5 separate regions of the Homo sapiens genome follow, and regions 1, 2, 3 and 4 are each linked to region 5. The links come from fine-mapping of genetic effects on plasma protein levels. A gene starts in region 5. Each other region holds a variant in brackets. All regions are shown on one strand. Distances are between the middles of the regions. Region 1 overlaps COL9A1 (collagen type IX alpha 1 chain). Region 2 overlaps SMAP1 (small ArfGAP 1). Region 3 overlaps ADGRB3 (adhesion G protein-coupled receptor B3). Region 4 overlaps RIMS1 (regulating synaptic membrane exocytosis 1). Region 5 holds the start of COL9A1 (collagen type IX alpha 1 chain).

Evidence for each region. PIP is the chance, under the fine-mapping model, that this variant and not a neighbour inherited with it causes the effect. The UK Biobank Pharma Proteomics Project read protein levels with antibody pairs (Olink). The fine-mapping took linkage between variants from a reference panel, not from the people measured, so its PIPs are less certain.
Region 1: its variant is fine-mapped to the plasma level of the COL9A1 protein (UK Biobank, PIP above 0.99).
Region 2: its variant is fine-mapped to the plasma level of the COL9A1 protein (UK Biobank, PIP above 0.99).
Region 3: its variant is fine-mapped to the plasma level of the COL9A1 protein (UK Biobank, PIP above 0.99).
Region 4: its variant is fine-mapped to the plasma level of the COL9A1 protein (UK Biobank, PIP above 0.99).

What each region holds. Positions count from the first base shown.
Region 1 is chr6:70,273,386-70,280,085 of GRCh38, forward strand. COL9A1 (collagen type IX alpha 1 chain) reads right to left here. Exons shown (of 38, transcript NM_001851.6): 11 at 1,334-1,387; 12 at 662-697. Among named protein-coding and RNA genes, the nearest start is that of COL9A1, 26 kb to the right of the region's middle. The variant A/G (reference allele first, on the strand shown) is at 4,038.
Region 2 is chr6:70,798,326-70,805,025 of GRCh38, forward strand. SMAP1 (small ArfGAP 1) reads left to right here. Exons shown (of 11, transcript NM_001044305.3): 6 at 332-412. Among named protein-coding and RNA genes, the nearest start is that of SMAP1, 130 kb to the left of the region's middle. The variant ATC/A (reference allele first, on the strand shown) is at 3,547.
Region 3 is chr6:68,881,226-68,886,225 of GRCh38, forward strand. The region is part of intron 3 of ADGRB3 (adhesion G protein-coupled receptor B3); the gene reads left to right. Among named protein-coding and RNA genes, the nearest start is that of ADGRB3, 250 kb to the left of the region's middle. The variant G/A (reference allele first, on the strand shown) is at 3,023.
Region 4 is chr6:72,198,265-72,204,964 of GRCh38, forward strand. All of the region lies in intron 6 of RIMS1 (regulating synaptic membrane exocytosis 1), which reads left to right. Among named protein-coding and RNA genes, the nearest start is that of RIMS1, 320 kb to the left of the region's middle. The variant G/A (reference allele first, on the strand shown) is at 3,711.
Region 5 is chr6:70,299,432-70,306,131 of GRCh38, forward strand. COL9A1 (collagen type IX alpha 1 chain) reads right to left here and starts at 3,653. Exons shown (of 38, transcript NM_001851.6): 1 at 3,480-3,653; 2 at 2,570-2,643; 3 at 878-955; 4 at 612-744. The coding sequence starts at 3,493.

The DNA.
Region 1 (6,700 bases), 26 kb before region 5:
ACTTCTGAAAATAGGCTTATAATGGAAAAGTTGACATGCTGAAATATGGCAAAGAAAATAGCACAAATAGGAAAAAAGAAGAAAAAATACAGATTAATGACAAGAGTAAAAGTGGAACAAAGAGCAAAATAGATAGGAAAAGCAGCCTAAGAACCTGGTCCTCATATATACAAATAACACACACCTGCCATATTGTGCAAATGCAGAAAAAGACTAGCCAAGGAATCAGGCAAGTGATAATATCTGATTAGTCGATATTTCATTAGAGATAAAACCAGTTGTGAAGAATGTGGTGTGACACCATGGTCTAAACATTGAATACTTAGATATGCTGTTGTTATGCAAGAAGTGTTTTCTATCATGGCAGGTAAAGAGGGAATTGTCTGCTGGGAAATACCACCTGCAAATAGAATATATATTTTCTACTGTACATTCAAACTTCTCTAAAATTTTTCCACTCATAGTAGAAATGCTTACCATACCAGATGTCATCAACTTATTTCTCATGTATATTATGCAGAAAACTGCACATGTACCCTAAAACTTAAAGTATAATAATAAATAAATAAATAAATAAATAAATAAATAAAAAGATTTCACAATGGCAGAATTTTACCTAAAGATAGGAAATTTTCAATTCTGTAGCTTTACATTTACTTACTGGAAATCCACGCGATCCAGGCACACCAGGTTCTCCCTAAAAATAAAAATAGTTTCATTGTACTGACCTTTCATATCATGAATATGTAAATGTGAAAACTGCATAAATATTGAAAGCATTAAAACACCCCATTATGGTGTTTTTTTTTTTTAAATTTCCAACTTTTATTTTAAGTTCAGGGGTACATGTGCAGGATGTGCAGGTTTGTTACATAGGTAAACATGTTCCATGGTAGTTTGCTGCACAGATCATCCCATCACCCAGCTATTAAGCCTGGCATCCACTAGCTATTCTTCCTGATGCTCTCCCTCCTCCCACCCCCTATTTTCTGACAGGCCCCTGTGTGTGTTGTTCCCCTTCATGTGTCCATGTGTTCTTTTTATTCAGCTCCCACTTATAAGTGAGAACATGCAGTATTTGGTTTTCTGTTCCTGCGTTAGTTTGCTGAAAATAATGGCTTCCAGCTCCATCCACGTCCCTGCAAAGGACATGATCTTGTTCCTTTTTATGGCTGCATAGTATTCCACATCATGGTGTTTTTAAACACAATTTTAGTTGAACGAGTGCATTTTAGATACTTCATAACTTAATGTTAGTTGGCTTGCAAACACTGCAATAAAATTATACTTCAGCATTTTCGTACTAGCAATTAATGCCAGATGGCTAACTTACTTTTTGTCCCTTTGACCCAATGGAGCCAGGGGATCCATCAGGTCCTGTTAATCCCTAATAGAGCAAGACAATGATGTTAGAACTATCATAACATCCTTAGGCAAACCACTAAGTAGAAAACTTTCATTTTATTTATTAATTGTCTACAGGATGGTTACATAAGTATGATGCAAATATTTATAAAGAAATACCTTACTATAGTCTTACTCAAAAGTAAAGATTAACAGAAGATCTGCCTGTTGTGATTATTTCTTCTTGATAAGTTGTATCATACTCCTAACTTCCTGCTAACTGCATTGTTTATCACAGGGTTCAATAATTCAGTGTTTTTTGTCTCTGCTTTGGAAAAAAATGCAACATAGCAATTACAATGTTGTAATAGCTAAGACTGGTGGGTCTTGGTTCTGCCATTTACTCAGGTTTATTTACCTCCTTTACTTCATTTATGAAACAAAAATACTATGTATCTCTCTACAGGACAATAATCTCTTTCTACATGACAACAATGTCTTGGAAGTCAATAAAATATTTCCTCAATAAGAATTAAACACAAACAATCTCATTATTGCCTTATAGCCACTAACAGCCCCCTAGCCATCTTCTAGCAATGACAATTGCTTATCAAAGAATATTAATTCTTAAAGTAGAAACATTTGAAAGCATGCATGTTTCTACATTATTTTTCTTAGTAAAAATAGCTGTGATTAAGTATATATGTTCATGTATGCCACTCGGTATGTAAAATTTAAGCCTATTATTATAAACCACATTTATAATTATCATATTTAATACTAAAGCAGTTATTAAATACATATTCTAAACATTCTCATTTTCCCTACTACTACTTACTTTATCATCATCCTCAATATAAAACACGTATTAAAGAATGATAATATCACATATATACAAGAATTTCCATATTTGGTAAAGATACATTTCTATTTTTAATTTTTTTCTTTGCTCTTTGACACTTTCAGATGCTGTCATTTACAATGTAATCTTGAAAGTATACCTTCCTAAAGATAAATATGATATATATGTGTGTACATATACATACATGCCTATATAAGTATCTTATAAACCCTTTCTATTATCAAGATTTTGAAGAAGACCCAAACAATATTGACAGAGGGATCTCTTGAAAAATATGAAAGCCCTACTTAAAAATGGATCACCAAAATTCATATTTAGTCTGTCATGGTCTGAATAAACATCCATAAAATTCCTTCACATAATTCATATAGAAAACTAGTTCAGTGGCCACCATTTTTACATTTCTCTACCTTAATTAATTTTCCTAACAATGTCACAGAGTGAATCAAATAGAAAAAAATGAGTTGAAATGTTAATTACTGGAAATTTACCAAAGAAGAAAAATATTAAACACACACAAAAGAACTTTTGACAGACTGCCTTTGATTTTCAATAGCCCTAGTCTAATTACAACACCGTAATTTGGGAACAAACCTCAACATGATTAGTTGCTAAGCACCTATGGTAATGAAATGTTTGCTTTGGCATTTCACAAACAAACTATACATCCAGGAGCACTCTCTGGATGCACATATGGCATGTAAATTTTATAAACCTCTGGGCATATTTAACTAACTGATCCTCTAATTCTCACTTAATGCATAAACCCTCCAAGACCAATTCTGTTCAATTTTCATACACACAGTCAACTAACACTCTTCAACCTGTGACTGGAATAACTGACAAGATTGGAGGACAGTAACTATAAAGCAGAACCAAGTAAATAGTTGGATAACCTGGAAGCTGTTTTTCGGTTACTTCATATTAAAAATATCCTCCATAAGACATGCTAAATTATGTCAATCACTGGAAAGTTCTTTGAACTAAGTTGAAAATGGATTCTGGTGTCAGATGTTACAGTAACACCTGTTATGAAATAACTATGCAGAAAACCGTAAGCTCCATGAGGACAAGAGTCATATGTCCATTACAGTCCTAACATGTTGTCCTGGCATCTAACCACTCAAGATGTGATTACTGCCTACAATAAGTTTAAGGAGGCCTTCCAGGTGGCAGGATATTACACTTGTTCCTCCACAACATCTTTATATTCAGCTCAAATCCTGATCCTACTACTTAGCAGCTGTGGAATCATGGGCAAGGTCCCTAACTGCACAGTGTTCTAGACGCTGTTCCTCATTGAGAAAAGGTCCTACAAACAAACAAACCAAATCTAGGTATTAACCACAGCACTGTATTTCTTATCCTCATCACATTTCTTCAATGCCTGAATATTTGCACCTACACTGATCTTTTAGAATAATTTCTTAATAACTCACAATTCTAGTTATAAAGCATCTGCCACAGATAATAGTTGTATACATTCAGAAAATACATAGCACCTAACCTCTGCCTGTAAAAATTATCACAGTTTAGCTATAATTCTTATACTTTATTCTAATTCCTCTTCTGCTTATCTCATATGGGTGTTATAAGAAAGAATAAAATACTGTTTTTAAAGGTCTCTCTGAGCATGTCACAACAAATAGTACATATAAAAATATCTCTATTAATATAATTGCTGAGAACAGCACAGTTGTCCTAAGGTTAGGACCAAGTTCTGTCTTATCTAATTTTACATGTCCATAAGCCAAAAAAAAAAAATCAACTTAACCTGAAAAAAGGGCAGATTTGAGTTGAAATATACAGACCACACACATAATACATACAT[A/G]ATTTTCAAAATCCAGTTTGCAGTAAGACCTCCTAATTCTTATTTCAAAGAAATAAAAGAAGAAAACATTACCAGAGCAGAAAAAAGTGCCTTCATATGAATATTCATACAGACAAACTTCTATACATTATAACATTGAAGCTGACTGTGTTCTGAACTTCATGTTACTGTTTGGCAGAGAAAACCAGTCCTCAATGGAGATTTCCTTCCAGTATTCTGACAGCTCAGCTGGTAGGACTCAAGGCTTACTTCTACAAGCATGACTGCTATGACTCATTTACATTTTCTGCCAAAAATCCATTCAACATAGGATAATGAACACTGAACAGGGTTCCTTTCTGATTCTTTCAACCATCATCCAATTAACCATTTTTTAACATTATCAAAAAATAAGCCTTGTAATGACCCAAAGAGCAGAAGACGAAATGATTCGAGGTTTAAGGTCCTACCAGCACACTCAGGTTCACCTACCAAGAAAGGACTGTTGAAGCTCTCCTACTTACTTAGCTCCCCTATGGCCAAGGACAAACAAACAGCAAATTCTGACCCAGTTACTGCATTTCATTATTCTCAAAGATATCCATTCTCAATTTAGAATAAAAGATTTTTTTAATGTCAAATCAGTCAAAGAGTGGAATAAGAAAACTTTACAGTTCCAGATGCCTCATGTGGCTTAAATTCAAAAGTCAGGGAATATAAAACAAACCAATATTTATAAGTAATTATAAAATATCTATTACAAATGGCTGTTATTATCCATATCATTCTTCTTGATCGGTGACTTAGGTACTAAAAATTCACTATCACTTTTTCTCTCTGTTCTCGCTATTCTCTCTCATCTATTAAGATCGTCACTTGTATTCGCATGAGGCAGAATTGCCTGGGGAGTCTAAAAATCAAGAAATCTGGACTATTTTGTTATCTTAGCTACTAAATAGCTCTCTGAGGAAACCACTTGTCTTCATAATTATTGTTTCCTTATTTATGGAAAGTAATATTAGACTAATCTACTTTCCAGGTTATTGTTGGTTAAAAGAAATGTTTGTGGCAGTGCTTGAGGAAAAAGTTCTGTGTAAATGCAAATAGTATAGTTGATTTTTCCCCAAGATCTAGAAAATGCCTAAAATACTGGCAGATACAGGGATTTCCTTTTTTCTCCCCTTTCCTCTCTTTCTCTTTTGCTTTCCTCTCCTGTCTCAGCAGACTAAATGTGCTCATCATTTTTTCCTTGAGGTCAAAGTTCAATAATTTAAGGCAGCTTATTCTTTTATGTCTTTTAATATTTGAAATCTGGTTTATGCTGCACTGTGGGTCTGCAAATATAGACAAAGAAAAATTTACTTGAAATTGCTTTCTATGTTGTACTTCTAAAAATTTCAAAGCACTTTCATTTGTTTATCCAAAGTTTCTGTTAGAGTGGGGAAATTACTTTATAAGCAAAACCAAGGATTGTCTTTATGACACCATGGTATAAGGTAAAGAGAAGAATTTGTTGAGTAAGCTACAAAAGCACTATTAAATTGGGGGACAGATAAGTCCAGCTTTCTGTCTGACATTATATTGCAGTTTAATTAATAGCAAGACAAGGATTCAGATGACCCATTTACGCTTCAAATACCAAAATAAATTTTTGAAATACAAAATAAATATTTTATTTACCAAAATAATTTTTTTAATTTAGTCAGAAATTTTCTTTTCATCCAAAACTAAAGGCTGATTGAAATTTCAAAGGAATATAGAAATAAATTCAAGCTACATTAGGCTACCAGTTTGTTCAGTAGCCTTGAATTTGTCAGACTCTTTTTATTATGGTATGACAATTTCGATTAATTATAGATGTTCCAAAGAGTTTGATTGCCAACAAGTTATATTATTTCAGTTCATATTACATTAATACAAACGCTTGTTTGAGATTCAGTTTTTACTATCTAAATATTAGTCCTTAGGTGCCTCCTGTACTGCTAATTTGCATACACAGAAAGTTCAAACTAGGGGCTTTGAAATGTAAACCAAGATCTATTTCCTAAAATACTATGGGTGAAACCCCATCTCTACTAAAAATACAAAACTTAGCAGGGCATGGTGGAGGGCACCTGTAATCCCAGCTACTCGGGAAGCTGGAGGCTGAGGCAGGAGAATCGCTTGAACCCGGGAGGCAGAGGTTGCAGTGAGCCGAGATCGTGCCATTGCACTCCAGCCTGGGCAACAAGAGCGAAACTTCGTCTCAAAAAAAAAAAAAAAAAAAAAACACATACACATACAAAAACGCTAAATAGTATAGACACAGTATAAACAAACACATTCATTATGGGAATCCCGACAAAGAAAGCACACCTTAATAACAGTAAAAATCCAGTTATTTATTTTTCTTTCAAAATGAAGGATATGTCTTAAACTGTAGTCAAAAATTCTTGGAAATCATAATTATAGGTTTTCGAGTGCTTTCTTTCATTTAGAAAAGTCTTTAGTTTTTGGAAAACACATAAAGTGGTAACTTGAAGAGTAACTTGAGTGATGCACCATGGTATGCTAAGAACAGACGCCATTTCTTACTTCACTTCATATTCCAGGGACAAAATCAAGGACTGGTCTGTAGTGGGTCATTATTACATATTGTTAGAATGCATGGAAAGAGGAGAAGCTGAGAATCCTGAAGTCATTTT
Region 2 (6,700 bases), 500 kb after region 5:
CTAATAAAAGGATATAGTGAGAATTTATTGAATGGAGATCTCATTCATTTAAAACAAGCATGAAACAAACCCTACTATATCAAAGAAGTTCTAAATTGTCTTACCGCTGTGCCTCTGTCTTAATTTTTTAACAGATATTCTTTAGTGTCATCAGCATATAACCTCAATGAGAATATGAATTTACTGTTTATTATATTTCAGTAGCACGTAGATATTGTAATTACTGAATATTTCTACCTTTTTCAGATGATTACTCAAACTAATAAGGATGAGTCAAAAATTGCCATTTTTTAAAAAAGTAAACTTATCAAAACTTTGGGCTGTGTTTTAGAAAGAAAAGGAAAAAAAAAAGGAAGAGAAAAAGAGAGAAAAGGAGCCAGAAAAGCCGGCAAAACCACTTACAGCTGAAAAGGTAAAATTCTTTTTTTAAAAATAATCTATTAGGATTACCATTTTATTTGTATACTTATATATTAATGACTTTCTGGATATTTATAATATGTAAATAATCATTATTTTCAACAAGCAATTGTTGAGTGAATGCTGTGTGCTCAGCATGTCCTTCTAGCTTGTCTCTGTATTATTTGTAATCAGTTATCTATATGTGTGGGTATAAACCCTCTGAGTTCCTTGGAGACAGGTATTCTCCTGTGAATGACATAGAGAATGGTGTTTTTAGCTTTCATACACAATCAGACTTAGAAGACTTAGAATTTTAGAGAATGAAGAGAACATAAATGAAAGGGACTTCAGAAAAGACTCTGCTTAAGGTTAGCCTTTGAGCTACCTCTTAAAACATAGGTAGGATTAAGGTGGAAAACGGGTACATGTTTAAGAGAACAGCCTGAAGAATGTATGAAAATTGTAAATAAAATGTTTAGAAAAATAGTGAATTTGAAGAAAGGGATTTGTCTATGTATAGAAACTAGTGAAAAATAACACCAGAATGGTAGATTGAACTCAAATTGTAGATGTTTATTCTTTTGGGGGGAGGAAAGGCTGTGAGCAGCACTTCAAATTCTAAAGCACATGGTACTCCTAATTCAGAAGGGTTTTTTTGAAAATTATTTTAGCAGTGATATGCAGGATAGATGTGATTAGGCGAACTACAGCTAGTGAGAATGTTGTACTTTGTAAAGGGATTGGTTAAATATTTATGGTGGCTTGGCTTTGAATGCATTTCATCATAAGAGTATGGAATCATACTAAGAGAATTGTCAGTAAAGGGAGCATCCTTGATTTTAGTTGTTGAAATTTTAAAAATCAACTTTATTGAGGCATAAATTGGATACTGCAAAGTACATCCATTTAAAGTACATAATAGAAGTACTGTATATAAGAAAGAAGATCCATTCTGCTGTTGAACATTTGGATTATATACAGGTTTTAACTATTCTAAATAATGCTGCTTTGAAACTTTTGTATATGGAATCTAAGCTTGTATGTTTTTAGGGTGACTTAGTAGTGGAATTTCTGCATCATAAAGTATGTGCATCTTGAAGTTTACTGGATAATGTCAAACTTTTTTCCAAAGTGTATACCAAAGGTACTCTTACCATCAAAGTAATTTCACATTCTATGTAACACATAGTGTTGTCAGGGATTTTAGCATTTGCAATATGGTGAGTATGTAATGGTGTCTCATTAAATTTTTACTGTTCATTTCCTTGATTACAGAATGAGGCCCAGTGCCTTTTCATGTCTTTTTTGCCTTCTTTTTTTCACTATAGCTTCATTTATTTTACATTTAAAAAATGAAAATAATACATGTGAAAATAAGGCACGTGTTTTTTAAAAAGTGAAACTTTAAATGGGGTGTGATGGTGCACCTCTGTAGTCCCCAGCTACTTGGGAGGCTGAGGTGGGAGGATCACTTGAACCCAGGAGTTTGAGGCTGCAGTGTGCTATGATCATACCTGTGAATAGCCACTGCACTCCAGCATGGGTAACACAGCAAGACACCCTTTAAAAAAAAAATACAGAAGGGAATAAAAAACAAAAATCTTCCTTTTCATAGGCCTGGTTCAGGTCTTTTGCCTATTTTTCTGTTGGATTGCCTGCTTTTCCTCATTGATTTGTAGCTCTCTATACACATATACATAATGTATGGGAGATACTAGTCCTTTTTCAGTTAAGTGTTTGCAAATACCTTATTTCTTCATTGTGTCTAATTTTGTTTCTGTTTTCATTTTAATTCTTTTATTATTATACTTTAAGTTCTAGGGTATATGTGCACAGTGTGCCGGTTTGTTACACAGGTATACATGTGCCATGTTGGTTTGCTGCACCCATCAACTTGTCATTTACATTAGGTATATCTCCTAATGCTGTCCCTCCCCCAGCCCCCCACCCCCTGACAGGCCCTGGTGTGTGATGTTCCCTGCCCTGTGTCCAAGTGATCTTACTGTTCAATTCCCACCTATGAGTGAGAACATGTGGTGTTTGACTTTCTGTCCTTGTGATAGTTTGCTGAGAATGATGGTTTCCAGCTTCATCCATGTCCCTGTGAAGGACATGAACTCGTCCTTTTGTTATGACTGTGTAGTATTCCATGGTGTATATGTGCCACATTTTCTTAATCCAGTCTATCATTGATGGACATTTGGGTTGGTTCCAAGTCTTTGCTATTGTGAATAGTGCCACAATAAACATAAGTGTGCATGTGTCTTTATAGTAGCATGATTTATAATCCTTTGGGTATATACTCAGTAATGGGATGGCTGGGTCAAATGGTATTTCTAGTTCTAGATCCTTGGGGAATTGCCACACTGTCTTCCACAATAGTTGAACTAATTTATACTACCACCAACAGTGTAAAAGTGTTCTTGTTTCTCCACATCCTCTCCAACATCTGTTGCTTCCTGACTTTTTTAATGATCGCGATTCTACCTGGCGTGAGATGGTATCTCATCGTGGTTTTGATTTGCATTTGTCTGATGACCAGTGATGGTGAGCATTTTTTCATATATCTGTTGGCTGCATAAATGTCTTCTTTTGAGAAGTGTCTGTTCATATCCTTTGCCCACTTTTTGATGTGGTTTTTTTTTCTTGTAAGTTTGTTTAAGTTCTTTGTAGATTCTGGATATTAGCCCTTTGTCAGATGAGTAAATTGCAAAAATTTTCTCCCATTCTTTAGGTTGCCTGTTCATGCTGATGGTAGTTTCTTTTGCCATGCAGAAGCTTTTTAGTTTAATTAGATTCCGTTTGTCATTTTTGGCTTTTGTTGCCATTGCTTTTGGTGTTTTAATCATGAAGTCCTTGCCCATGCCTGTGTCCTGAATGGTATTGCCTAGGTTTTCTTCTAGAGTTTTTATGGTTTTAGGTCTTACATTTAAATATTTAATCCATCTTGAATTAATTTGCATATGAAGTGTAAGAAGGGGATCCAGTTTCAGCTTTCTACATATGGCTAGCCAGTTTTCCCAGCACCATTTATTAAATAGGGAATCGTTTCTCCATTTCTTGTTTTTGTCAAGTTTGTCAAAGATCAGATGGTTGTAGATGTGTGGTGTTATTTCTGAGGCTTCTGTTCTGTTCCATTGGTCT[ATC/A]TCTCTGTTTTGGTACCAGCAACATGCTGTTTTGGTTACTGTAGCCTTGTAGTATAGTTTGAAGTCAGGTAGCGTGATGTCTCCAGCTTTGTTCTTTTTGCTTAGGATTGACTTGGCAATGCGGGCTCTTTTTTGGTTCCATATGAACTTTAAAGTAGTTTTTTCCAATTCTGTGAAGAAAGTCATTGGTAGCTTGATGAAGATGGCATTAAATCTATAAATTACCTTGGGCAGTATGGCCATTTTCACGATATTAATTCTTCGTATCTATGAGCATGGAATGTTCTTCCATTTGTTTGTGTCCTCTTTTATTTCATTGAGCAGTGGTTTGTAGTTCTCCTTGACGAGGTCCTTTACATCCCTTGTAAGTTGGATTCCTAGGTATTTTATTCTCTTTGTAGCAGTTGTGAATGGGAATTCACTCATGATTTGGCTCTCTGTCATTGTTGTATTGGAATGCTTGTGATTTTTACACATTGATTTTGTATCCTGAAACTTTGCTGAAGTTGCTTATCAGCTTAAGGAGATTTTAGGCTGAGACGATGGGGTTTTCTGGATATATAATCATGTCATCTGCAAACAGGGAGAATTTGACTTCCTCTTTTCCTAATTGAGTACCCTTTATTTTTTTCTGTTGCCTGATTGCTCTGGCCAGAACTTCCAACACTGTTGAATAGGAGTGGTGAGAGAGGGCATCCTTGTCTTGTTCCGGTTTTCAAAGGAAATGCTTCCAGTTTTTGCCCATTCAGTATGATATTGGCTGTGGGTTTGTCATAAATAGCTCTTATTATTTTGAGATATGTTTCATCAATATCTAGTTTATTGAGAGTTTTTAGCATGAAGGGCTGTTGAATTTTGTTGAAGGCCTTTTCTGCATCTATTGAGATAATCATGTGGTTTTTGTCTTTGGTTCTGTTTATGTGATGGATCACGTTTATCGATTTGCGTATGTTGAACCAGCCTTGCATCCCAGGGATGAAGCCCACTTGATCGTGGTGGATAAGCTTTTCGATGTGCTGCTGGATTCGGTTTGCCAGTATTTTATTGAGGATTTTCGCATCGATGTTCATCAGGGATATTGGTCTAAAATTCTCTTTTTTTGTTGTGTCTCTGCCAGGCTTTAGTATCAGGATGATTCTGGCCTCATAAAATGAGTTAGGGAGGATTCCCTCTTTTTCTATTGATTGGAATAGTTTCAGAAGGAATGGTACTAGCTCCTCGTTGTACCTCTGTTAGAATTTGGCTGTGAGTCTGTCTGGTCCTGGACTTTTTTTGGTTGGTAGGCTATTATTGCCTCAATTTCAGAGTCTGTTATTGGTCTATTCAGAGATTCAACTTATTCCTGGTTTAGTCTTGGGAGGGTGTATGTGTCCAGCAATTTATCATTTTCTAGATTTTCTAGTTTATTTGCGTAGAGGTGTTTGTCGTATTCTCTGATGGTAGTTTGTATTTCTGTGGGATCAGTGGTGATACCCCTTTATCATTTTTTATTGCGTCTATTTGATTCTTTTCTCTTTTCTTCTTTATTAGTCTTGCTAGCAGTCTATTTTGTTGATCTTTTCAAAAAACCACTCCTGGATTCATTGATTTTTTTGAAGGTTTTTTTGTGTCTCTATTTCCTTCAGTTCTGCTCTGATCTTAGTTATTTCTTGCCTTCTACTAGCTTTTGAATTTGTTTGCTCTTGCTTCTGTGGTTCTTTTAATTGTGATGTTAGGGTGTCAATTTTAGACCTTTCCTACTTTCTCTTGTGGGCATTTAGTGCTATAAATTTCCCTCTACACACTGCTTTAAATGTGTCCCAGATATTCTGGTACGTTCTATCTTTGTTCTCATTGGTTTCAAAGAACATCGTTATTTCTGCCTTCATTTCTTTACTCAGTAGTCATTCAGGAGCAGGTTGTTCAGTTTCCATGTAGATGTGCAGTTTTGAATGAGTTTCTTAATCCTGAGTCCTAATTTGATTGTACTGTGTCCTGAGAGACAGTTTGTTGTGATTTCTGTTCTTTTACGTTTGCTGAGGAGTGTTTTACTTCCAATTATGTGTCAATTTTAGAATAAGTGTGATGTGCTGAGAAGAATGTATATTCTGTTGATTTGGGGTGGAGAGTTCTGTAGATGTCTTATTAGGTCCACTTGGTGCAGAGATGAGTTCAAGTCCTGGATATCTTTGTTAACCTTCTGTCTCGTTGATCTGTCTGACATTGACAGTGGGGTGTTAAAGTCTCCCATTATTGTTTTGTGAGAGCCTAAGTCTCTTTGTAGGTCTCTAAGGACTTGCTTTATGAATCTGGGTGCTCCTGTATTGGGTGCATATATATTTAGGATAGTTAGCTCTTATTGAATTGATCCCTTTACCGTTATGTAATGGCTTTCTTTGTCTCTTTTGATCTTTGTTCGTTTGAAGTCTGTTTTATCAGAGACTAGGATTGCAACCCCTGTTTTTTTTTTTTTTTAACTTTCCATTTGCCTGGTAGGTCTTCCTCCATCCCTTTATTTTGAGCCTATGTGTGTCTCTGCAGGTGAGATGGGTCTCCTGAATACAGCACGCTGATGGTGATGGGTTTTGACTCTATCCAGTTTGCCAGTCTGTGTCTTTTAATTGGGGCATTTAGCCCATTTACGTTTAAGTTTAATATTGTTATGTGTGAATGAGATCCTGTCATTATGATGTTCGCTGGTTATTTTGACCTTTAATTGATGCAGTTTCTTCATAGCATCGATGGTCTTTCCAATTTGGCCTGTTTTTGCATTGGCTGGTACCAGTTGTTCCTTTCCATGTTTAGTGCTTCCTTCAGGAGCTCTTGTAAGGCAGGCCTGGTGGTGACAAAATCTCTCAGCATTTGCTTGTCTGTAAAGTATTTTATTTCTCCTTCACTTATGAAGCTTAGTTTGGCTGGATATGAAATTCTGGGTTGAAAATTCTTTTCTTTAAGAATGTTGTATATTGACCCCCACTCTCTTCTGGCCTATAGTGTTTCTGCTGAGAGATCTGCTGTTAGTCTGATGGACTTCCCTTTGTGGGTAACCTGACCTTTCTCTCTGACTGTCCTTAACACTTTTTTTTTTTTTCATTTCAGCCTTGGTGAATATGACAATTATGTGTCTTGGGTTGCTCTTCTTGAAGAGTATCTTTGTGGTGTTCTGTGTTTTT
Region 3 (5,000 bases), 1.4 Mb before region 5:
GCATCAAATCCACAGTTATGTGACTGATAAAATACAAATCTTGCCTCCTTCTCATATTTTCCGTGTGTTGCAGAGTGATCTCTCTCAAATGCCAACCTATTTATTAAGTCTTGTATCTGATTTTCCACCTTCAATATATGCCTTTTTTCCACATTTAGTACAATGCTGGCATGTAGTAGATGCCCAGTTTGTAGATATTGAGTAGCTGAACTATATTCAATTCAGTATATATTCCCTGAATATACATTGGCATGCAAGGCAGTGTACTCACGAGTACACGGATGACTAAGACACATTCTTTCTCTTCTTGTAGTTTTGCATTTAGTAAGTGTGGATATTTGGGGATAAGTCATGACAAAAATCCTAATAAAAGCCAACCATTCAAGCCAAAGAGAGTCAGTCGGGAACAAGTGGCTATGGGAATTTAGTCTCTGACACCAGAAATCATAGCCTCTCAGAAATTACAGTTCACTGTGGAACACTTTAGTGTTTTGGAAGGTAGCTCTGTCTTTCAATGGCTAGCTTTTAATCAGCTTTTTGAAATAAATGAATAAAACACCCTTTGTTTCATTTATGTGTGTGCTTCAGTTTAAAGTAGTAAAAACAATGATCATATTCATCTGTTCCATACAAGAGTCGACAAAATATTGGATACATATTTAAGTATTACCATAATTATAGTTTTTATTTCATTAGGCAACTTACATCGAGATTTTTATGTACACAGGTCTGTGACTATAATAATCCATTCCTAATTGCTTATGTGGAATCTATGAATCCTTCCTTGTACAGTATTTTGTTCTCCTAGGTGTTGATAAACTAGAGCCGTTAGCAAGCTTTTATGTTCTCTTAAAGGTTATTTGACTTTGATTTAGAAATGTTACATTCCCATTCATTTCATGAATATTCTCTAATGCTTTTTCTAAACCTGGGACATAATATGGATCTTACTTCTACAGAAAATTATGGAGATTATCAGTAATTGCTCTATTACAACCACAAGGAAAAATATATTTAGATTGTAGAGTCCCAAGGTATTTCAAAAACATACTTTGAAGTAGTGACTCAATATTGGTAATGTATGTAGTTTGCATACAAATAATAAGTATTATACTTTCATGTATAACATTTAAACCACAGGATACTGAAGTTCTCATTTCCTGTTGGGAATTTTCCATGTGAATATAGGACTGTTCCTCTATCTGAAGAGCTAGAGATTTCCCTTTTATCATATTGAGCATACAATGAAATGATCATGTTTTGATTTTTTTAATTATCATCTCAAAGGTTTTAAAAGAATTATATGCTTCCTTTACATTGCATTATCTGATTCTATCCAGTGATAATGTCCTATATAGTTATCTCTCTAAATTGAAGGTGACTGAATGGGATGATTTTCTTTTTTGTAGTGGCTCCTAGACTCCTCCCTTAAGTCCTGGCATGCAAGTCCTCAATCATAACTGATACCAATTATTTCAGGGTATTCTCTGTGGCAGTACAGATTTCCTCCTCTTCCCTACTTTTATTATAAACAGTTTATACAACACCTAAAAAGCCCTTCTGAAATAATGTGATATGAAAGAGTCCCTTAATGGTTATTTCCCTGGAAGACCAACTAGGTAAGCACATAGTCCCATTTACTACCACTTCTATTACTAGTTTTTTTTTTGTTTTGTTTTGTTTTTTGAGACAGAGTCTTGGTCTGTCGCCCAGGCTGGAGTGCAGTGGTGCGATCTCTGCTTACTGCAAGCTCTGCTTCCTGGGTTCACGCCATTCTCCTGCCTCAGCCTCCGGAGTAGCTGGGACTACAGGTGCCCGCCACAATTACCAGCTAATTTTTTTGTATTTTTAGTAGAGACAGGGTTTCACTGTGTTAGCCAGGATGGTCTAGCTAAAGGATTGTAAATACACCAATCAGCACCCTGTCTATCTCAAGGTTTGTAAAGGCACCAATCAGTGCTCTGTGTCTAATCTGGTGAGGACTTGGAGAACTTTTGTCTAGCTAGAGGATTGTAAATGCACCAATTAGCACCCTGTCAAAACGGACCAATCAGCGCTCTGTAAAATGGACCAATCAGCTCTCTGTAAAATGGACCAACCAGCTCTCTGTAAAATGGGCCAATCAGCAGGATGTGGGTGGGGTCAGATAAGGGAATAAAAGCAGGCTGCAGCACCAGCTGCGGCAATCAGGTTGCGTCTCCTTCCACGTTGTAGGAGCTTTGTTTATTTGCTCTTTGCAATAAATCTTGTTGCTTCTCGCTCATTGGGTCTGTACTGCCTTTATGAGCTGTAACACTCACCACAAAGGTCTGCAGCTTCACTCTTGAGGTCAGCGAGACCACGAACTCACTGGGAGGAGTGAACAACTCTGGACTGGAGGAATGAACAACTCCAGAGGCACTGCCTTAAAAGCTGTAACACTCACCGCAAAGGTCTGCACCTTCACTCCTGAAGCCAGCGAGACCACGAACCCACCAGAAGGAAGAAACTCTGAACATGTTTGAACATGAGAAGGAACAAACGCCGGACACGTCACCTTTATAGAACTGTAACACTCACCGCCAGGGTCTGCGGCTTCATTCTTGAAGTCGGTGAGACAAAGAACCCACCAATTCTGGACACAGAAATACTGAGGCAAGATAGTTACAACTATATGTATCTCATCAATTTAATTAAAATTGGAATTAATAAGGCTTGAACTTAATAATTTAAGGGTACTTCCAAGGTTGCTGTCCTGTCAATGGATATTTGTTTGATGGTGTGAACAAGAAAGCAGAATTAAAAGATATTTTAAAAAATGATTTGACTAGAATTCAGAGTGCTTTGTTTGGCACTAAATGTGACACCTGAGCTCCTTCTCTCTCTTGCGAATGAGATCATGGCTTTGGTTTCCATGATTTCCAAGGTTCATTTATTTTTTAAATCGACTTACTTTTAGATTCAATATAGGCTTTAACATATACTCTTTCACTTCCTTAGTAGGTACTTTATGAGCACTTCGTTCATGTAAGGCACAGTGCCA[G/A]GCACGGGGATGTGTCAGGAGAGTGAAGAGCTCCTTTGCTCATGGGCTCAGGGTTTGGGGGAGACAAACATTACATAATTACACAAATAAATAGAAACTGTGATAAGCGCTGCAAAGACATCATGGAGGGTGTCAGGAGATAAAATAATAGATTGACCTAAATTGGATTGAGAGTGAGAACATGTCTCTCAGAGAGTAAGAGCTTTAGGCTGAAACCCGGGGAGTGAGAAAAAATTAGTTGAAAAATAAAGCATAAGTTAGTATTTCAGGCAGAGGAAAAAGTTAACAGAAAACCCCTGAGACATGAAATCACCCAGAGTTTAGGACATGGTCTGAGATGAGGTTGGAGACAGTGGGCAGAAACTACATCATGGGAAGCCTGAGGTCAGAGTAGGGGCTTTTATCCTAGATACAACGAAAATCTGGCAGTGAAAGAGATAGAGAAAAACAGGTAGGTGTGGGGAGGAGTTGTGCGCAATACACAAAACATAAGATGCTGAATGGGTGAGAGGTTTGGCTTTCTTCATTTTTGTGTTTTGTAAAAATTTGGCCTTTTTGGAAAGGTCAGATTCTTGGGAGATAATTTCAGACAACAGTACATGTGGAATTTGAGCATCTTGAAAATGTTTTTTAAAAGGCTTCCTATACCTCCTAGAAGTACTCATACATCAATTTGAAGATCACTGATATAAAACCCAGTACCTAATCTTAGGAAGTTGGTAATATAGGTAGAGAGATAAGTCACAAGCATATGAAAAGTTAATCATAAAATATTTAAATAACAGTTCAATACAATAATAAACTATAATAAGCAAAGTGTATGAAATTGCCATGTTTAATTGCTTAATTAATTGTGCAGAAAATGATTGGTCAGAGGTCCCCAGTGGTCAGGGCATTTTTTGGGGATCTTATAAAACTGGGAGAATTTGAATGGTCTGAAGGAAGGATTTGTGATATTTCAAGACTAACAGTAATATTTATTGAGGGAGAAAATTGAAAGATGTTTTTGAGTGCCTACAATTTGGTGAAATGATTAGAAGATAGTTTGATTACAAAGAGTATGGAATGCGACCTTCTCCAGGTTAATTTTTTTAATTAAAAATTTTAAATAATATTAATTGAACATATTATGTATTTATGGGGTACAATGTGATGTTTTAACATATGTTTACATTTGTGGAATGATTAAGTCAAACTAATTGACGAAAATCTATCACCACACATACTTGTTTCTTTGTGGTGAAAACATTTAAAATCCTTTTAGTAGTTTTGAAATAGACAGTATATATTTATCACATGCTCAGTAAAATGGCGAGGCACAGAAGGACAAATGCTGCATGATCTCACTTGTATGTAGATTCTTAAAGTGTTGAACTCATGGAAGTAGAGTACAATGGTGGCTACCAGAAGCCAGGAGTAGGGGATTGGATACAGAAAGGGGAGATATTGATCAAAGATACAAAATTTCAGTTAGCCTTCAGAAATTGTACTACACTTTGTGGGTCCTGGGTATCCACTGTAGACTTTGGAGTAGGGAAATACTAGGATAAAATTGACATGTTAAACGTATCCAGGGAAAACCTGACAAAGGGATTTGAAAGAGGAAATGGTCAAATTTAGAGGCTTAGAGTCAAAATCCTAGACTAAGGCAATAAATAGCTTATGTAATGGATATGAAAATGGAAAGAAGGAAGGAATATTTTTGAAACGTCCAGTGAAAATAAAACAACACAAAACAAAAAGACAAGATTGGGTAATTATTTGGATATAGACCCTCAAGGAAAAGTGAAGAGTCCTAGAAAACAATTTTGTGCCCTATAAACGTTAGGAATGGTTTTTGTGATTATTTAATCAATTTGCTTGTTACAGTAATAGTAGTGTTAGCAGTGGAAATCTCAGAACCAGGAGCTGAAAGTACCTGTATCTCCACTGTTGTCAAATTCTGGTATTTAGACTTGCTTGTACTTGCAAGCTGGTG
Region 4 (6,700 bases), 1.9 Mb after region 5:
GCCCATATGAAAGAATGAAATCCTCTTATTTGCAGTAACATGGATGGAACTGGAGGTTATTATGAAATAATAATCATCATCATCATCTGCAGTAACATGGATGGAACTGGAGGTTAAGTGAAATAAGTCAGGCAAAGAAAGCAAACATCATATACTCTCACTCATATGTGGGAGCTAATAGAATTGATTTCATGGAGGTAGACAGTAGAGTGATAATTACCAGACATGGGGAAGGGTGTGTTGAGGGGAGAGGGATGGAAAAGAGAGGCTGCTCAATGGGTACAAACTTACAGTTAGATAGAAGGAATAAGATCTAATGTTTGATAGTAGAGTAAGTATACTATAGTTAACAACAATATATTTCATATTTCAGAATAGCTAGAAGAGAGGACTTAAAATGTTCCCAACATATAGAAACAATAAATACGTGAGATAATGGATATCTTAAATACCCTGACTTGGTCATTACATATGCTATGGGTGTAACAAAATAGTACATGTACCTCATAATTATGTATAAATATTATGTGTTAATAAAAATATACAGAATCAATTATGAGCAAAGTAATTTTGAAACCGCAATTCTGTATTCATCTAAACTATCAACTTCAAAGTTCTCAGAAAACCTGCATTTTATTCTCGTTCTGAGAATGTTATTTAAGGATATATGCACCCAAGAAAACTGAATAATAATCATGTAGTCAAGACAAATAATAAACAAGAAATAGTAGAACTAACCCAGAAATTCAATGCAAGGAAGTCCCTGAATGACATGTGCAAAAAGAAGTTTGTTCAGATTAAAACTGGAGGTCATTTCCAGGAGGCTCCAATAAGAAAGTCTGTATTAAGAAGAAGGTCATGGATTCCAAGAAATATCCAATGACTAATGAATGAGTTACATGACATCATAGACTTGTTAAAGAAAGGCTGTGTCTTCTTTCAACAATAAAAAGGGGCAATTAAAAATTGATAAAAAATAAACTTAAAAAAATCCTTGTCCAAATGTGAAGCAAGAAAAAATATGATGTAATTTAAGTAACTGATACAGCCAATTGGGCCATAAACTTAACTACATTTTTCTCTGAGTGCCTGACAGTGCATCTATAGAAAAGGAAATTTAACCCTTGCACATTATTGCCATTTTCTTGGTTCTAGGGTATTTAGATGTAATGATATTGTAAAAGTTGCTTATTGGTTTTCAATTTTTAGAATAAACCCTTTTTTTCATTTAATACTTAAAAATGTCAACACAATTGAATATGAATACTGTGTCTGCATGAAAATAAAGGTAAAACTGACAGATATGGGAGTTGAAATGCTCTGGAGAGGGCAGAGGTGGAGGGATAGGCAGGAATATGAATAGTCTTATGTAAAATATTGAAGAGTTAAAAGATTGTGTTCAGATTTTAGGACAAGAAATAGAGGATTAAGTATGTTTAAATATAGAATTGTAGAAAGATAAAACTATTGGCTTCTGAAACCAAAATGATGTAAATAAAGTGAGCATCTTGTCTTTAATCAGTTTTAACAATAGGTAATATTTTAAAATTAGAAACCAGTAGATAATATTACAAATAAAGCAGTCAACATATAGAGACAAATTATTTTAAAATTAGGATGTTTTCCATTAGAACGACTAAGAAAATATCTAAAAATAAGGTTGGGAAGTAGAATTGATACTGTGGGAAGAAGGGATATGAGGAGAAATCAATTACTATAGTTATGCATGGGAAGCTCTTATTTATTTTAATTTTTATCATATGCATGCATTAATTTGATATCCTTTAAAATAAGAAAATAAAAAATTCTATCTAATATTTCTTTTATTAAATTGCAAGTAACCAATTTTGGTGTCTTCTGGGGCCTTCCATAATTGGTATTTTAGCAATCAGAACATCAAAGAGCAGTGGGTTCACATGGAACTGTAAAAGCCTTGAGTTCTCTTTTTATACTAGTTTCTCTTTCCTTTCTCTTCATATATTAATTTTTCATTGAGCTTCCACTATATGACAGGCACTTACCAGGTTTGGGGAGTATATTGCTTAGAGCATAGTCCCTGACCTCAGTGGCCCTCTCAAAAGAGTCCACCTGATTTCTTTTGTGCTTTTCCCTTTTATCTACATCTGCCCTGGGCCCTTTCCCACACAAGGTGAGGAACACACTTTCAGAGACCTCTACCTCCACTTCTTAACCTTCAATGAAAGGCTTTCTGTAGTTTCTTCTTTAATTACTCCAAAAGAGGAAAGAAATTGCCATAGGGAAACATTTGGACAATTGGACAGGTTGACATTTAGCACTAATGCTCAACAGTTTTACCTGGCCTGACTTTTTCTGGTCTTATGAAGGATAGAGATGAGAATAGGCATAAAACAGAAGAGAGACTACTGTCTGCCATTGATGAGGGAAGGATAAACAATTCTCCCTCTTAACTACCGAAAAGGAGACATATGACTTGGGGCATTAGATGCTTCAGTTTAATGCCTTAGAGAAAGTCTGAGAACTAATTTCTTCTTACTGTGGATATGGAGTGGACATTAGCCGTTTTAATCATCTGTGCAATTTAAATCTTGAGAAGAGATTGAAAGGACACAATTGTGTGTGTGTGTGTGTGTGTGTGTGTGTGTGTGTGTGTGTGGTCTGAGCTAACATGCCAATTTCTTATTTCTAAGAATATGCATTAAGAAAAATTTGGAAATCATGGTGAGAGGCTGGATTTTCAGTTTCAATTTCTGCCTAATATATAAACGACCAAAAAAAGTCTCCTTGATTCTAAAACAGGAGTTATGACGAAACATAAGTTCTATAAAAAGGAAAGAAATTAAGTTGGTAAATCTAACATGATTATACCCAATAATATTTCTTCCAAATTAGTCCATGGCTAGAAATATTAGTCATTTAGTTGCATTTGAAAGAAATTTCTATTCTTGAATCAGGAGAAACTAAATTAACATCAGGGCTACATTTTCAAAAATAATCATACAAATTTTATGTGTAATATATGCTTACAACTTTAATATAGAACTTTTAAAAAGATGTGTAACTAAAGGTCATTTTAAGGGGAAACATTTACGCTTCAAAGTTCATTTAGAAAAAGATTTGATATTGAAGATTTCAGTATCACCTGTTTTATCTCAGTAAGTTGTTCTTTGGTATCCTTTTAAAATGCAGAATCATACTGCAGTGTTTTTGACCCATTTTATCCAGTGAATGAAAAGGTTGTCCTTATTTTGGTTCAATTTAACAGAATAACAGAAATCTCAGACCTGGAAGAGGGTTCAGAAGCAAACAAAAATCTCTCCTTTCACACACTGTTGATCAGAGAAGGAAACATGGGTATTGAGATCTGCCGAATTTCTTGCCTTTGAAACCCTTTATTATATGCAGATGGAAGAGCTTGAAACTCATCTTGTACCCTCTGAGGACAAGCATTTACTCAGTCCTTCTACTTATTCTGTCTGCAGTCTGGGCTCAACCCTAACAATCTAAATTTTAACATATTCCTGAGTCCACATTCCAGAGTTGTGCCTTGTTTTGGTTATTAGATCCATTTCCCTAGATCTTGTGACCAAATCTGATTCTGTTGCCCAAGTCTTCAGAACTGAAGCTTTTGCTTGCCGTCACCAGTCCCTGTCCAGGAGTTAGATAGAAGCTGGATCCCTAGATACTGACTGATGTCAACTACTGTATTGGAAATCCAGATACTACCTTCC[G/A]TATCATACTTATTCATACCTCGTGGGGCATTTCTGATTCTTACTGCTATTCTAGGTTTATTGTATTTAGCCATCTTCTTTGTATGTCTTGTTTTAACTACTGAGCTAAACTTGTGCAATTGTGTCTTTTTTAAAAGCACATGTTTCATCCCAAAGGGCAGATCTAATTTTAATTCCAGTAAACCCTTCTGAGGCTGCTGTGTACCACATGAGATAATAATTGTATTAGTTTCCAAGGGTTACCATAACAGGATACTGCAGACTGGGTGTCCTAAACAACAGGAATTTATTTTCTCATAGTTCTGGAGGCTGGAAGTCTGAGATCAGGGTGTTGGCAGGGTTGGTTCCTTTGGAGGAACCTGGGGAAGGATCTGTTCCAGGCCTTTCTCCCTGGTTTATGGATGACTGACTTTTCTCTGTATCTTCTCATGATCTTCTCTCTCTGCATGTTGTGTCCAAATTTCCTCTTCTTGTAAGGATACCAGTCATACTGGATTAGGAACCTCCCTAATGGCCTCATTTTGGTTTAATTGCATCTTTAAAGACTCTGTCTCCAAATATAGTTACAGTCGGAGGTAATAGGGGTTAGGACATCAACAGATGAGTTTGGAGGGGGACATAATTCAACTCAATGATAATATTCATAGGAGGAAAGAGACCAAGTCCTGTAGATGTTTGTGTACGTACATGATAAATACTGATTTTGGCATTTGTCTCCATGGTTGTCTATGAAAAACATGATCATGAAGAACCTTATTGAGCAGTTGCTTTATGAAGAGGGTTTAATATCCCAGATCATGAGGACATAAATAAGTTTTAGGCATAGCCAGAGACTGATAACCCAGGACATGTTACTTAACCCCTAAGTCTCAAGTTCAATCGTTTTAGAACCTGGAAATAATAATTGCACATACCGCATGGAGTAGTTGTAAAGATTAAATGAGATTATTCATGGCTCTGTGTGCCTTGTACCTGATACATAGCAAGTACTCCATAAATATTCTTTCTTTCTTTTTTTATTTTTTATTTTTTGAGACGGAGTCTCCCTCTGTCGCCAGGCCGGAGTGTGGTGGTGCGATCCCGACTCACTGCATGCTCCGTCTCCTAGGTTCACGCCATTCTCCTGCTTCAGCCTTCCGAGTAGCTGGGATTACAGGTGCCTGCCACCACATTTGGCTAATTTTTTGTATTTTTAATAGAGGCGGGGTTTCACCGTGTTAGCCAGGATGGTCTCGATCTCCTGACCCTGTGATCCGCCCACCTCAGCCTCCCAAAGTGCTGGGATTACAGGCATGAGCCACCGCGCCTGGCCCCATAAATATTATTTCTATGGCACCAAATAGGATGCATAGATAATATATTTTACAGTAGTGAGGAAGGAAGCTTGAATGCCGACGTTTAATATTAGAGCTGGGGTAGATTTTGGGCAGAAAGAACCAATGTGTCATTCTAGTGAGGGAGACTGGCATGAAGAAGGAAAGACAAGCATACACACTGTTCTAGGAAGAATAAGCTTATAGACCTGTAGAGAGAAAAGAGCCCAGAGGTTACAGGTTGAGGGAACAGGTTATCCTAGTTCTGTCAAGAACTGGGTTACCTTGGGTAACAGAAGGAGAGGGTTGGATTAGATCAGTGATCCTAAAATTTTTATGTACTTTTAAAATTATCTGAGGAGCATTTAAAAATATGTGCTGGAGTAGCACCAAAAACTAATCTGGTTTAGTCAATGTGGAGCAGTGCCCCAAATTTATTTTAATGTGTAGTTGAATAAGTTCAGTGCACGTTGCAATCACTTGAGGGAGGAGATTTTTGAAAAACCTGCTAGTATTCAGGTCCCAAGCCCAGAGATTTTGATTTTAGTGTTATGGGTTGGGGCCTGAGTATTGTTATTGGCAAATCTCAAACCTGACCCTTCATAAATTATGAAGTGCTAGTCCTCCCATGAGAATTTTTTTTTGGTATCATAAGATGAGCTTCCAATAAAAAGTTGAATATTAATTTGAAGACACATTTGACTGGGAAAGTATCCAAAATGATTTAACTTATGTTTGGGGAATAAAATACAGAGTTATATGAATCCAGGTATGTTTTGGAACTTCTTAACCTTCACTTTCTGACTGACTAGCAGGTGTGAATTCTGCCTGGGATAGCTCTGTAGTGCTTGGGAGCACATAAATGAGGGAGGGATTAAGGAACAGAAGAGTGACTTTGCATATATTTGGAACAGAAACTGAAAGTCCTGTCTACTTTGAGATAATAAATGGGAAAGTATTGCTCAGAGTCTTGAGGATCATACAAAGGTAGTAATTGTAACTGTCCTAACACTTTGTCATTCCAGTCGGTGCGGTGGTGAAACTCCTGTAGATTAGGTTATCATTATATACAGAATGAAATCCAAAAAACTTCAGCCATGCCCTTCAATCTTCACAGTGTCTTGTGTCTTGACACAATCACCTCTAGAACTCTGTTCTTCCTGACTGATTAGCATTTATTTCCTGTATTTCACACTTACCATACACTTTTCCATCTCCATTATTTGGCAGTGTTCTGCCTTTTTAAAATGTCCTCTATCTCTAGCTGTGATTTAAAACTAAAATCAAATTTCGCCTTCTCCTCAATCGTTCTCTTTGAATACCCAATTTTATTCTTAATGTTTGCATGTGCTTTCCTAAGGGAAATTAATTATAAGCATAAACGGAGAAATCATCTTTCTACATTTATATATTGTTTTATGGTTACTAAAGTGATAGTTTATAGTTACATACATGGAATTATAGTTGTTGGATTAAGTTGTACATTGTTGAATGTTTCTTTTTTAATTTATAGAAGTAATTAGAAAGTAAGAAACTAATAAATTTTATAATTTCATAGGGAGAAAAGATGTATATAAAAGTACTGCTGAGGATGATTGGGTTTGAAAAAGGGTAACTTTTCTTGTCTTCTAATTCTTGGCATATCTGTTAAGTTTATTGATTTAATGGCCATGCATT
Region 5 (6,700 bases):
TCATAATGATGACAGGACTCAACACTTACACACTAAAGTACCTCAGTTTTAAATAAAGAGCAAAAGGCTTAGTTCCAGAGAAAGAAATCAGTGAAGTGGAGGATTTGATGTCGTTAGTATTACTATCATTGTTTCTATTATAATTATTTTAGTTTTGCTTTGGTTTGATGTCTGCCAGAAGCCAAGCAGTGGACGTGTGGCTCCATTTCAGCACCAGGACACTTGAACAGCACCATTGTGAGTCTTCTAACCACTCTGTGGCTCCTAGTTAAATTTATGCTTACCCTCTGGCACTTTTCACAGAGGGTCCTTTCAGTCAAAACCAGACAAATTATAGAAAAACAGAAAGCAAGGTAATAAGAACATGTCCTGAATCAATGTATAATAGTCTCAGTGATGCTTTTTCCTGGAATGGAAAGTAAATTACATACTGAAAACATGAAATGCAGTATTAAGGTACTGAAGATAGGCAGGTAAATAAATTTCTTCATCTTTAAATACAATTATAATCCAAGAAACATTGATCATAAGAAAACTCTAACATTGGATAGCTATCCATTTTTAATGCATTTGAGTCAGATAATTAGATTAAAATATTTTTGATAGATTACCTAGTTGGAATCCTGAAGTCTACATTATTTCCCAACTTGTAAGCCACCTGCAATGTAGCTGATCCCACTACTCTCTGGATAGCTCTTCTAGATGCTGCTTTATCTACCTGGAACTGAGAGATCAGATCAAACCCTATAGAATGGGAATACAAAATGAAAAGTCTAAAATGAGATTGGTTTTATTTCTTTCCACAACTTTCCCAAATAAAAAAAAAAATCAGGTTTATAGAAAGCATGCATTTTCAATAGGGTACATTGCTACTCACCTGGTAAGTCATCTTGGCCAATCCTGATCTTTGGACAGAGTTCATTTCCACCATTAGAATTGGAATTGACAGGGAATCCTGCAAAAGAGATAGCATGTCATTCTACTTCATCCACTCTAACTTAAAGTATAATAATAATAAAATAAAATAAAATAATAATAATAATAATAAAATTTAGAACCAGAAAATAGCAATTGACCACAAAAAAAAGATTTCAGGATGTATCAATAATAATAAATATTTAAAATTCAATATTATACCAGCTTGCTTAGAGGTAAAGTGTTTGGCTTTACCTCCATGCCTCTACGATTATAATCTGTCCACCTGCAACTCATCCTGGAAGGGGTGGATGCAAGGCACAAAGTTGCTCTAATAATCTGGCTGGGAAAATGTTCGTTTTGAAGAGGTTAGGCATTTGTTCCTTTTGAAACCAAAGCTGAATGGTGTCCTGAATGGCACAGGGTCAGAAATCTGTTTGGAAAATTCCTGGTGGTTTGGGCTAGAAAATGTTCCTTAAACACCACAAATTTTAGGATTCCAGTGAGATTCCAGAGCCAACCTTGGTCCAGTTCAGTGGGGCTTCTGGAGAGTAGAGTTCTTAGGAATCTTTGTCAGATATAGGGGCCTGGGGAAGTCTTGAGATTCACTAATCCTAAATAAAATATAGAGGATGGATTTGATTTCATAAATTCGTTCTAAGAGATCAAATAAAAGTCCCGACTAGATTAATCCTAACATCTTAGAACTGGGAAGAGTAAAAAGAAGAAGAAAATAATCATGAGAAGGATTAAATCCTCAATTTGATAAGAAATCATAGAATGGAATTGTGTTCTCCTTACACAAATGGAAGGTCAAAGGGAAGAGAGATTTTTCACCACCACAGAAGGCTTCTTGGAAATATCCAACCTCAGTGCCTTGCTAAGATTCATCTGACAACAGAGACTCTCTAGACTTCAAAAAAAGTATTATTCAGTTACAAAGCATAGGCCCGGCGCTGTGGCTCACGCCTGTAATCCCAGCACTTTGGGAGGCTGAGGCAGGTAGATCACCTGAGGTCAGGTGTTCAAGACCAGCCTGACCAACATGGTGAAAGCCCGTCTCTACTAAAAATATAAAAAATTAGCCAGGCATGCTGGCACATGCCTGTAGTCCCAGCTACTTCGGAGGCTGAGGCAGAAGAATCACTTGAACCTGGGAGGCGGAGGTTGCAGTGAGCCGAGATTGTGTCATTGCATTCCAGCCTAGGTGACAGAGTGAGACTTCATCTCAAAAAAATAAAAATATAAATATAAAAAAGCATGGGCCTAACCATAATGGTACATCAAACATGCTCTTTATACTCTCCTCACCCCAAATTGTTGAGGTCCATCCATCCATCAGTCTATTTATTCATTCATCCATGTATTCACCCAACATTTACCAATCACCATCTGTACTAGGCACTGCACTAGGCACTGCAGCTCACAGATTGGCCTTCCTACCAACTGTGATTACTGACAGGACTTACTTTCCATACCCAGCATTGACCATGGAAAACCAGAACCTAATGTATCCCTGTGCCCCAAAGCTGGATTGAAGAGTGAGGGTGTGAAGGACTATGAATGCCTCACTCAGTCTTCAGTCAGCCACAGCCCTGCCTGATCATTTCTGGGAATAAGTGATCTTTGAAAGTCTAGAAACTATGGCCCTTACTGGGGCGACGCTTGACAGCTGCAGATGCCCAGGGTTCCAGGAAACTGCACACAAAGAAGAAAACTGGAATTTTCCTGAAGAAGAGAGAAGAAAAATGACTGAAACAGGAGTCCCCGCAGATGGAAAACACTTCCATATTTTCAAACCTAGTAAACCTAATTAATGTAAGGTGATCAAATCACAGTATAGTTTTTTTTTCATTTCTTTTTTTTTTTTTTTTTTTTTTTGAGACGGAGTCTCGCTCTGTCACCCAGGCTGGAGTGCAATGGCGCGATCTCGGCTCTTTGCAACCTCCACCTCCTGGGTTCAAACGATTCTCCTGCCTCAGCCTCCTGAGTAACTGGGATTACAGGCACGTGCCACCACACCCAGTTACTTTTTCTATTTTTAGTGGAGACAGGGTTTCACCATGGTGGTCAGTCTGGTCTTGAACTCCTGACCTCGTGATTCGCCCGCCTCGGCCTCCCAAAGTGCTGGGATTACAAGCATAAGCCACCGCACCCAGCCTTCATTTTTACTTTGAAACCCTACTGAGAGATGTAAGGAACTCATGTTTCCAGACCCCACTGTCGTTGTTGTTTTATTGATCTCACCTTCTCGGTATCTACCTATCTCACTGTTTTGGTACCTATTTCTTTGTCTCTGGTTTCTTTCACCTTTGATTTCCTTCCTCTCTTTTTCTGTGGCCGTCACTTTCTCTCCCTTCCTCTGTCTGTCTTCGGTTTTTTGTGTCTGTCTTCGGTTTCTCACGCTTGCCCTCTTGTCTTACTCTCTCATCCGTCTCTCTTTCTGTCTCTCACCTTGAGGCTCACCTACTCTCATCTTACCACTGCTGCAAAAATACAGACCCTTGGTTCTGAGGACCCCCAGCTCCATCTCCCCACCACTCTTTCCAGGGTTATTGTCTTACCAGCAGGTCTTCATTTTCCCAGTTGATTTTCTTTGTTTGCCAACAGTCCCTATGAAGAAGGGGTTGGAAGGGAGTCACTGTCCCCTCACGACCCCTTCACTGTTACCCTAGGACTATGTGTTCTGGGCCCAGCCTTGGTCCCTCCTGCCCCCGGTGAGGGCTAAAAGCAAAGGGAGAGAACCAGAGGCATCTCGTGACACTTTAAACTGAAGCAAAGGAAAGGGGTGGGGAGAAGCAGCGCTCTGAGCCCAGGCCTAGGGGTGTGTCCTCAAAGCTAACAAGGTTATACTGAAGGAGGGATTTACAGGGGAAAGTTTGCTGAAAAGAAAAAAATAAAATCAGGATGTGGGGAAATTCACCAGAAAGATCCAGGCAAGGTGCTATAGGAACACAGTAGATGCTTTTAGATCTGCTATAGGAGTACAATGGCAGCTTTCAGAACTGCTATAGGAATACAGTGGAAGCTTTCAGAGGGCTGAGGTTCCAGTAAAAATGTGCCCACTGGGAGGCAGAGGTGTGGAAACTCGTGGGAGCCTTGGTGCCCGATCAACCTAAGTTTCAATCCCTGTTTATTCTGAAGCTTACTAGCTGTGTGTCCTTGAGAGAGTTACTTCACCTTTCTGTAACTAGATGCCCTAACTGTAAAACAGATTGAAAATGCTTACATTAAAACAATGGTTTTGAGAATTAAATGAGGTATCAAAGGCAGAGGGTCTAACACCCAACAATCATTATTTGTCATCGTCTTCATAGCTAACGCTTCATTATGCACCTCCGTCTGTTGAAAATGCTCAAAGCTTAATGCCATTTAATTCTCACAACAACATTATAAGGTAAGACTGAAGTTACCCTTATTCTCCAAATAAGAAAGTTGAGGAAGCAGAAAATGAAGTAACTTTTTCAAAGTGCCATGCCTATTACTAAATACACATTCCCTCTCTCTACCTCATGGATAGAAATCCTGATAAAATGTAACATCAAGCCCCCTACTTGTTGTTTATTCTTAAACTCTGAGACTACCAGAGTTGAGCAGAGGACACTGTATCTGGAAAGAAGCAACATATTATCCTCCGTTAACAAGGTGAGAGCAAATTACAAGGAGCACAAACCTAGAGAGAGGCATGTTATCAGCATCGCTACCACACATGCCATGCCGTCTCTCCAGAACCTGAGCACCTAAAGAGAATTCCCTATAGCCCCCACATCACCCCCGTTACCACCCACTCAGCATGGCCAACCTCTGGCCTTGTCTTGAGGGACACGGGTGGTTACTCCAAAAACCAAGACTCTAAAGGTCAGAAGATCCAATGATCTCAAAAATCACAGTACAAGCAAAGTAATTTTTAGGTGAACTTTTTTTTTTTAAGAGACAGGGTCTCAGGTCTCGCTCTGTCCCCCAAGCTGGAGTACAGTGGCATAATCATAGCTCACTACAGCCTTGAACTTCTGGGCTCAGGGGATTCTCCCACCTCAGCCTCCTGAGTAACTGGGATGATAGTCATGCACCACTGCACCTGGCTTCTTGAAATTTTTAAATTTCGTTTTCTAATTGATTTAATTTTTATTTAATTACAAAACAATAGCGTTGCTTCTTATTTTTCATTTGTTTATTTCTTTTCCAAAAAAGTCCTTTCAGTTTCTGCCTCCCCCAGCTCACTGATGAAATGTAAATCAGGCAAACTTAATATCCATGCTTTTGCCCTTTTATTTTCTACTCATAGCCCACCTGTTGGAGTCCTGTCTCTCTTTCCCAGAGGGACACCCATTTCCTCATGCTGTTTGGGGCTTTCTACAAGTCCCTGTCATTTGCCTTCTGTCTATCAAAATTCCCATTCCCTAGTGCAGCCATCCTGGCTCTGTGACAGAACTACAAATGACCAGATCTTAGCTTATTTGTTTAAGTCAGTCAGGGCTCATGAGAAAGAAGCGGTCTATTAACCTCAGAGGAGAAACTGCAGCTGGGGACCTTCCTGACATCCTGAAGTCACAGGAGGTAAGCCAGCCAGAGATTCACAGGGGAAAAGGCATTTTCCAAAGGGACTGTCCATTGAAGCTATTTATTTGCATGATTGATCCTCTCATATTACTTACTCTGGTAAGAAAGGAGAGAGGGATTTTTCATTATAATGAAGTGTTTGGGAAATCCTTTCATTGCTTTAGAGATCTCAATTCCGCATTTGCCCCTCTCCTTCCCACTGTAATGAATCCTCTTCAAGTAGAATTTGAAATCAAGTGAGGGTGCCTTTTAATTAAAAATGAAAGGATAGAGAGAAAAATAGGTTTGCTTATAGGTGGTGTGGCTTTTTTCTAGCTTGGCAGTTTTATTTAAGATGGTAGGAGCAAGCAAGAGCTATTTTAAGAAAGAAAGTAGGCTGGGCACAGTGGCTCACGCCTGTAATCCCAGCACTTTGGGAGGCCAAGGTGGGTAGATCACCTGAGGTCAGGAGTTCGAGACCAGCCTGGCCAACATGGTGAAACCCCATCTCTACTAAAATACAAAAATTAGCCAGGCCTGGTGGCACGCGCCTGTAGTCCCAGCTACTCGGGAGGCTGAGGCAGGAGAATCGTTTGAACCCAGGAGGCGGAAGTTGCAGTGAGCCGAGATCACACCACCGCACTCCAGCCTGGGTGACAGAGTGAGACTCCATCTCAAAAATAATAATACTAATAAAAAGAAAGAAAGTAAATCCAGGCCAGGCAGGGTGGCTCATGCCTGTAGTCCCAGCACTTTGGGAGGACAAAGGCAGGCGGATGACTTGCACTCAGGAATTGGAGACAAGCCTGGGCATCATGGTGAAACCCCATCTCTACAAAAAATACAAAAATTAGCCGGGCACAGTGATGCACACCTCCAGTCCCAGCTACTCAGGAGGCTGAGGCAGGAGGATCTCTTGGGCCTAAGGAGCTTGAGGCTGTAGTGAGCAGTGATTGCACTACTGCACTCCAGCCTAGGCAAGACAGTGAGGCCCTATGTCAAAAAAAAAAGAAAAGAAAAAACAAAAAACAAAAAAGAAAGTCGATCCAGAGAGAACAAAGATATATACAATATTATTTAAGGAAATTTTTTTTCCTCCCTCCACTCCCATTTTCTATTAATCTTGTTTCCTAACGCGACATTAGAATCTCACAGACAGCAGTGCAAATGCCACACTATTCTGGTCTGGGTCAGTTGCACCCTAAGGTCATAGACGCATAAGCTTTTTCACCCTTAGCATTATTTC